2 separate regions of the Homo sapiens genome follow, and region 1 is linked to region 2. Evidence: fine-mapped expression QTL. A gene starts in region 2. The other region holds a variant in brackets. All regions are shown on one strand. Distances are between the middles of the regions.

The links. PIP is the estimated chance that this variant, and not a neighbour inherited with it, causes the effect.
Region 1: its variant is fine-mapped to the expression of PLB1 in whole blood (TOPMed, PIP above 0.99).

What each region holds. Positions count from the first base shown.
Region 1 is chr2:28,462,554-28,466,944 of GRCh38, reverse strand. No RefSeq gene overlaps it. Among named protein-coding and RNA genes, the nearest start is that of PLB1, 31 kb to the left of the region's middle. The variant C/T (reference allele first, on the strand shown) is at 2,290.
Region 2 is chr2:28,493,842-28,498,232 of GRCh38, reverse strand. PLB1 (phospholipase B1) reads right to left here and starts at 2,173. Exons shown (of 58, transcript NM_153021.5): 1 at 2,064-2,173. The coding sequence starts at 2,118.

The DNA of each region.
Region 1 (4,391 bases), 31 kb after region 2:
TAATTTTGTGATAAGCAACTACATTTTTATCCTGTCATTGCATGTTTTATATCTGAAAGTGCACAAAAAGATTTTTATGTTCACTACCTTGCAAACAGATAAGCAAACAGAGTCATTGAGAAGGAAAGTTGGAAGTTACTCAGGAAGCTAGAAGCTAAGGAAAGACTGAAGCAAGTAGGTAAGTACCCTGGCCGGGGTAGGGGATCGGATTCCATCCAAAGCCTTCTTTGACACAGTATTCCAGGTTCATTTGCTTTCTCCACTTACCAAAAACAAACAAACAAACAAAAACCCACTAGTGCAAGACTCAGGCCAGCTCCCTCTGGCTCTTCAGAAAATGTGGTTGTTTTCTTGAATTTGGCCCTGGCTACAGCAATGACTTGAGAACGTCTGGAGAGACCTGGGTAAAAGCTGGGTGGGTAAGTTACCAGGCTCCGCCCAGACTCAGTCTCCCAGCACTACGGGCGCAGAACTGGGCTCTGAAGGCAGATGTGAGTGTCATGGTGTCTTCAGTGAGCCTGGGCTGTCAGCTCATGAAAAATTTAAAAAAGATTTTGAATTAGTTGGCATTTTTTAATGGGATGATTTTATATTTTAAAATGCAGCTTTCTGGCATATTTTGAAAATATGAGGCTGGGTGCCGTGGGTCACGCCTGCCACCCCAGCACTTTGGCAGGCAGAGACAGGAGGATTGCTGGAGTCTAGGAGTTCCAGATCAGCCTGGGCAACAAAGCAAGGCCCTGTATCTGGCCAAAAGGAAAGAAAGAAAGAGAGAGACAGAGAGAGAGAGAGAGGAAGGGAGGGAGGGAGGGAGAGAGGGAGGGAGGGAAGGAAGGAAGGAAGGAAGGAAGGAAGGAAGGAAGGAAGGAAGGAAGGAAGGAAGGAAGGAAGGAAAAGAAAGAAAGAGAGAGAAAGAAAGAAGAAAGAAAGGAAAGAAACTACCTTGCTAAGTAGTGAGCCCTCTGTCACTGGAGAAATGCAAGCAGAGACTGGAGATCATTGAACTACACCAAAGGGATAACTGTATCAAACACTTCTTAAGTCTCTTTCACCTGTGATAGTCTATGATTCAAATAGTTTAACTTCAAGGGCTCCCAGGGGGACTGAGTGGGGAAAGATGGAATGTGAGGTGCAGTGGATGAGATAAGGAGAGAACAAAGGAATGAAGTGGTGAGCTCAGCACTGTAGCTCTCAGTGTGCAGAAAAGTCAGTCAGGTTTGAGGTCAGGTCAAGGGAAACCAACAGTACATTTACATAAATGTGCTCTAAAGTTCACATTTGCTAATCTATGGGAACAGATAGATACACCGAGATAATCAACTCAGTTTGAGGCTTCTTGGAATCTTTATGCTGCTCATCACCCTGAAAGAACGAGACAGACGAGAGCAAAGTCATCTATGTGGTTACAGTGGTATTTTCCCAACTACAGGTTAGAAGTCATGAAATCAGTTTCGTTGGTTGTAACTAGCATTAAAAAAAATGGAAAATACCAGAGCGCATCACAAGTGATTAAATGACCAAATGTTTCATTAAAGTTTTGTTTCAATACTATGTAAGTCTATATATCATATATGTATGTGCACCAAATTACGATGTAAAATTGGTGAAAACGAGTTTGAAAGCCACTAGGTCAGAGACAGAGTGGGGGCAACCCTGCTCTGTGAGCCAAATCCTGTCTCAGATTAATTTTATCTGGCCAGGGGTGGAGCAAGATGGCAACCAAGTGCAATCCTGATGGGAGCAAGGTGACAACCAGGCCTGGGACCAAGCTCTGATGGGCTTCATTCCTGAGTCGAAGAGGCCACAGCAGAGTGCACAGGCAGATTCCAGACTTTCCTCGGGAAGCTGCTATCCGTTTTCTCAAATGAGGTCTGTGTGTCCCACCATTCGCAGACATACCTCCCCACCGTGACCACCACCATCCTGACACTTGCATATTGGCCACACTCCTCACCCTAGCCCAGGAGGAAGCCAGGAACTTCTGCATGCATCATGTCTTTGGAGTCCACCCCATGGCCAGTCCTGTTCCCTCCATCCCTCCATCTCAGCCCCTTAGTGCCTCTTCCATAAGATCGCCTGGGGTATGGCAATGAATTAGTGGCATAGTCTGTATCCCCTGTCTCCATATTCCTGAATTGCTTAACTTATTGAATAGGTTTCTTTAATATCATCTGCAGACTGAAGGAACTGACAAAAAATGATGGTGTGGATTTGACAGTTGCTATGAATGAGCTGCCTACAATTCTATCTAAGGCTGGCTCTCCATTGGAGCACAGGATTCTGTACTCT[C/T]ACTTTCTTTTTTTTCCTTTAAATTAGAGATGGGGTCTCTCTGTGTTGCCCAGGCTGGTCTTGAACTCCTGAGCTCAAATGATCCTCCCACCTTGGCCTCCCAAAGTGCTGGGATCACAGGTGTGAGCCTCCACACCCGGCCCAACTCTCACTTTCCTGACACATCAATGATCCCCTCTCAATTATGCCCTCTGGCATACCAACATGATATAATTTTTCCCAATGTCGAAAATCAAAACATAACTTCTCTTGACCTCATAGCCCCCTCCAGCTTCAATCCTATTTTTCTATTCTCTTGGCAGTTAAAATTTCTTGAAAGCTTTCTCCAAACTTATGGATTCAAGTCTTCGTTTCAGTGAGTTCTGAGTCTTCCACTGGAACAAAACTGTTGTCAGTTCACCAAGGACCTTCATGTTGCTAAACCCAGTAGTGAACTTTTCATCTTTATCTTACTTAAGCCATTAACAGCATTTGATACCTTTGGTCACTCTGTCTTTTTTTGAAATACTTTCTTCATTTTGACTTCAAGACAACGCTCTTGTGGTTTTCCTCTTTCGACATTGCCCACTCTTTCTCATCTGCATTCTTACTTCTTCCTCATCATGCTGGTGTGTAAACACTGGAGTGCACTGATCTGGGTTCTGGACCTGTTTCTCTTATGCATCTACACTCACGGCCTAGGTGATTTTACCCACACACATGACTCTTCATACCTTCTATACCCTGTCAAATGTTAAATGATTTATCTCCAGAGCTCCGGGTGCATACATCCAACTGGCTAGTGCACATCTTCACTTGCATATCTTGTGACCATCTGAAATGTAATGTGTCCAAACAAAACTTCTCGCAGTTCTGTTTCCAGGGTAGCATAGTGAGCTCCTGCTGTATAAACCCCTACAGGTAACTACCATAAACTCTGAACAAAATAGGAAAAACAACGACCTGAAGGCCCTGGAGTGTGAACAAAAGCAGGCAGTTTCTGGAGAGGAGTTACTACTTGGAAAAGGAAGATGCATATGCGATGAGTTTCACAGTTTTTATGGCTTTTATCCAAAAGGCAGGCCATGGTAGAGTCACACAGGGCAGATAAAATGATGATAGAAAGTCTGCAGTCCTTCTGGCCTAAAGAATCAAAGGATAGAGTTCGAGGCAACCACAGCCATTGGAAAGTGAGAGGGAGAATCCATAAACAGAGAGACGCAGAGAAGAAGAACCACAAATTCTGTGTATAAACTGTCCAAATCTCTGGCCAATTCCTAGTCCATGCATGCATGAGGCAGGCTCAAGCAGCCCAGATAAGAATGTACAAACTAAACTGAGATTTAAACTGGTGCTCAAGAGATGGTTTACAGCTTGATCCAACCAAGTTAATAGCTTGCTTAAAACAAAACAAAATTTAAAAATCAGCATTTGGCCAGACGTAGTGGCTCAATCCTTTAATCCCAGTGCTTTGGGAGGCTGGAGCCAGAGGAGCACTTGAAGCCAGGAGTGTGAGACCAGACTAGGCAACATAGCGAGACACCTCTCTACAAAAAATAAAATTTAAATAAAAATTTAAAAAAGTAGCCAGGCATGGTGGCTACTTGGGAGGCTTGAGGTGGGAAGATCGCTTGAACCCAGAAGTTTGAGACTGCAGTGAGCTATGATTGTGCCACCACACTCCAGCCTGAGTGACAAACTAAGAATCTATATTAAAAAAAAAAAAAAATCAGCAGTTAGGGGAAATAACAGAATCCAGAGTCTCCACAACTTAACAATCATAATGTTCAGAATATCCAAATTATTTCATATATGAAGAACAGGGAAAATGTGATCCATTTTTAAGAGACAAGACAATCAACAGAGACTGACCCTGAGATGACCTAGATATTGGAATTAACAAAATCATAATTCTCAAGTAGCTATTATAACTATGCTTTGCAAGCTGAGGATGATACATGTACAACAAATAAAAAGATAGGAAACCTCAGCAGAGAAACTTGATTTAGAGGAAAACTAAATAGAAATTCTAGAACTGGAAAAGATAATGTTTGAAATAAAAGATTCACCAGTTTGGCTTAACAACAGTGTTCAGATAATAAAGGAGTCAACAACCTTGAAAT
Region 2 (4,391 bases):
TAATAATAACAACATTGGGTTCCTCTCATATACTATTCATAAAAGTCAATCCCAGATGTAGGGTGATTGACTTAAACGAGAAAAGTAAATTTATAAAGCTTTTAGAAGGAAATATAAGATATCTTCATGACCTCGAGGTAGGAGAGGAGTTATTTAAGATACAAAGAGCACAAACCATAAAGGAAGATTTAAAATACATATACTTAAGAATAAAGGCCGGGCACGGTGGCTCACACCTGTAATCCCAGCTCTCTGGGAGGCCGAGGCAGGCAGATCACTTAAGATTAGGAGTTTGAGACCAGCCTGGCCAACATGGTGAAACCCTGTCTCTACTAAAAATACAAAAATTAGCCAGGCACGGCGGCAGGCACCTGTAATCCCAGCTACTCAGGAGGCTGAGGCAGGGGAATTGCTTGAACCTGGAGGGCAGAGGTTGCGGTAAGCTGAGACCAAGCCACTGCACTCCAGCCTGGGTGACACAGCCAGACTCTGTCTCAAAAAAAAAAAAAATAGAGAATATACAAATGGACAACGGTGGGACCACATATGATAACAGAACTCTGAGCCACAGTCTGCAATCGGCCAGGCCAGAGAACCAAACTGCAGCCTCTGCAGCAATCAGCCCAGAATGGTCAGGTTTGGTTAATGACTGCCATCTTCTCTATTTTTTGCTCTGCTTCCAACTCAGGACCCCTCAGAGAAAGCCAGATACACTCCCAACTGGATAACTTCAGATGCCGTGCCTCTAGTCAGCTGGTCCCTGATACCAACAACCTCCAACCAGAGCAGATCTGAAGATTTCCCTTTTTTCCACTGTGAAACTTTCCCACTCCCCTGCCTGCCTTTGAATCTTGGCCAAACATAAGTGATGTCTCGCTACAGCGAGCTCTGAATAAGTAGCCTCTGTTTGTCCTCATTTGGGTAGTCTACATTTATTTACACAAAATTAAGAATTTTGCTCATCAAAAGTCCCCATAGGAGGACAAGCTTCAGAGTGGAACAAGATATTTGTCATATATGTAACCTCCAAAGAGCTAGTACACAGCATATATGGAGAACTCCTAAAAAATCAATAGGAAAAAGACTTCAACAGGCACTTCACAAAAGAGAAACTCAAACAATCTCTATGAAAACACTCCTTGGCCTCATCAGTAATCAAAGAAATACAATCATCCTGTGCAGAAGGCATAGCAAGCATCGTCATTCTCCCCCACGGCTCAGAGCGGTAACTGACTTGCCCCAGAGAAGCCTCAAGCATGGGCTCAGACCCTAGGCAGGCCCAGGACTCTGTCCCATGCCTCCTCCACTCTCTCTGGGGAGTCAAGGGCAAGTGCCTTCTCACTCCAGACCCCGTCCTCTCATCTGGAGAAGATGAAAGATCTTTAAGGCCCTTTTCAGTTTAAAAGATTCTGCCTTCCTAAGCAAAGGGAGAGCCAATGATGGGAAGAAGAGGGGCAGAGAGGGATTGTGGCAGAGGCACAATCTACCCACAGTCATTAATGTTGGGGGGAATGGAAAGCCCTGGCTGGTTGCCCACTCAGTTCAATGAAAGCTCAGCACTCTGTTTAGCAGCACTAAAGAATGTAGGCAATCTTTTAGAATTTATCATCTGGAAATCTGTCTTCCTTTGTCCTTCAAAAACAAAACAAAGCTCATAAATGGTAATAGTAATGATCAAAATGTGCATAGTAGTAGTATTTCCATTTTAAGGATGAAAAAAATCAAGGTCCAGGGAGGTGGAAGAACTTGCCCAAAGCCACAAAGCACAAACAAATAGAATCCAGGGGTTTTTTTTGTACCATGGTACTGCTACCGGACTGCACTTCTCTCCTGTCCCAAGATCTGCCTCGCTCCCGGCAGCCTTTGGGACATGTAACCCTGTGTAGGCAGCCTCTGCATCCCATTCCGCAGGAGGCAAACCAGACTTCTTATTCTTGAACTGTACGCTTTGTGCTTTATCTCTTCAAAAGCACACACTCCTCTCACACACCCATTGCCTAAGCAACATGGGACACCAGCGGGGCTAAACCACTGGTTGTCCTCTGAGCAAAAGGCACGCTTACCTTGCCCCAGAAGCAGCAGCAGCTCCAGGAGGAAAATGCCTGGCCGCAGCCCCATGCCAGAATGCTCCAGGTGACTCGGGCCTCTGGAAGAGCTGCTCCAGCAGATGGATGGGCTATCACACCTCCTCCTGCTTTTATGTTCCTCTGTGTTCTGATAGAGCACCTGTCATAAATTTTACTGTGTTCACCTTTGAAAGGGGGTAGTGGCGGGCTGTAAATGATAAATATTAACACTTAGGCGGAAGAGTTCTTAAGGCAGATGAGTCAATGATGGGTAGCATGTTCTAGTCATAGACACTGACAGACCAGGGCCGCATAGCTGCCTCCATACAGCCTTCCATGATGGTGGGTGCCCAGAAATTGCCGGTGTTCGGGTCTGCTGGGAAGAACGTGGGCCTGGGAATCCCAGGTGCTGGTCGGAATTCCAAATCAACCACAGCTGTGGGAACTTGGGTGTATCCCTTAACGTGGCCTCAGCTTTCTCAGTTGTAAGCCAGGAGATCAAAAGTACCTTGTAACAAATGTAAACCATAAACCTACCTCCAAATGTGAAACGTGTTCCCACCGTGTCTCAGAAGCTCTGCTAGGTTCCCTGGTTTGCATGACACAGAGAGGTTTGTTCTGTTCCCCCCATCTCCAAACCCATGGGTGGCCAGTTGTGTTGGGTGGATGTGCACACCATAGATTTGTTGTCTGCATGTTGAATTCAGAGATACAAGCCAGAGAGGGGGAACCAAGTTTGACAAAATCAGCCGTTTCCTTTGGGTAAACTAAGTCAGGAATGCAGGCTGGGTCTAAACTGGGCAGACAAAGCTGGCATTTAAAGCCTGAGTGACAAATACCCTTGAGAGTAGAATTTAAATTTTTTACACAAATATCAAGAAACAATTGCCTTGGTTGATAGGAACAAATATATTTAAATTATCCTTGCTTTCTGGCCATGCTTGTGGGTGTGAGGCTGGGATCCTGACTTCTGAGGTCTAGCTAAGACTCTAGGGCTGGTTCCCATGACCCAACCTCAGATTCTGATCTCCTGGCTGACCCACTTTTCTCATATTTAAAAATCACAGCCAGACACAGTGGCTCACACCTGTGATCCCAGCACTTTGGAAGGCTAAAGAAGGAGGATTATTTGAACCCAGGAGTTTGAAAACCAGCCTGGGCAACTCCATCTCTACAAAAAATAAAAATAAATTAGCCAGGCATGGTGGCATGCACCTGTAGTCCCAGGTACTTGGGAGGCTGAGGCAAGAGGATTGCTTGAGCCCAAGAGTTCAAGGTTGCAGTGAGCTATGATTGCACCACTGCACTCCAGCCTGGACAAGAGCAAGATTCCATCTCAATTAAAAAAAAATTGTTTTTAATTACTGTTATAACCTCTATTGTCTTGAGTAGAAAGTGAAGACGAAGTGAGTGGCCCTTTGTTCCTGAATCTCTGGTTTTAGGATGTTGTCTCCCTTTCTCAACTGCTCAGAAAATATGTGACTTGTGGGTCACCACTGATTTAGCCAATGCCAAAGGCTTAGCCTAAGCCTCAGGACTGTAGGGGGGTATTGGGACATGCCAGAGGTGTGTGGACACTGACACACTTAGTCCAGCTGGCCATCAGCTAGTTCCAGAGCCTAGAAGAGGGCAGCACACACAGACACACAGAAAAGGAAGAAGAAAATACACCCAAGGCCAAGGTCTGTGGGGGACAAGTGAGCACAGATGCCCCTGGATATGTAGACACTTGTCAACTTCACCAAACTGCCCCCAAGTTCAATGAGAAGCCAGAGCTGCTGTCCCACTAAGGATGTCAGGAGTTTACCCAGCTCCATGCCACCAGCAGCTTTGAGGAGCATCACTGAACTTGCCTGGGCTGAATAGGCCAAGGTCCCCACTCATGTGCAGGCCAGCTGGAGGTGGGGTGGAAAGGACATGGGGCATGCGCAGAAGTAAGTTGGTTCCACGCTCCAGGTACTCGCTCCATCTCTTAACTGCTTCTCTCCAGGACTACCACAGCCCAACTGGGTTACCATCCTTCCTCTAACTCCTTTCACATTTAGAAAAATTGAGAAATGCCTTAAAAACATTTGAATGTTGGGAAGGCATTTTGGTATGGGATAGACTGGATGTCCTTTTAGGTAGAATAAATCTCTGAGTTCCATCCATGCATCAAGGAATCCTCACCAACTGTGAGGCTGTAGGGGAAGCAACATTTCTTAGACACTCTTTTTAAAAATTTTTTTGAAAAACAGAGATGAGGTCTCACTATACTGCCCAGGCTGGTCTTGAACTCTTGGGCTCAATCAATCCTCCCACCTTGGCCTCCCAAAGTGCCGCGTT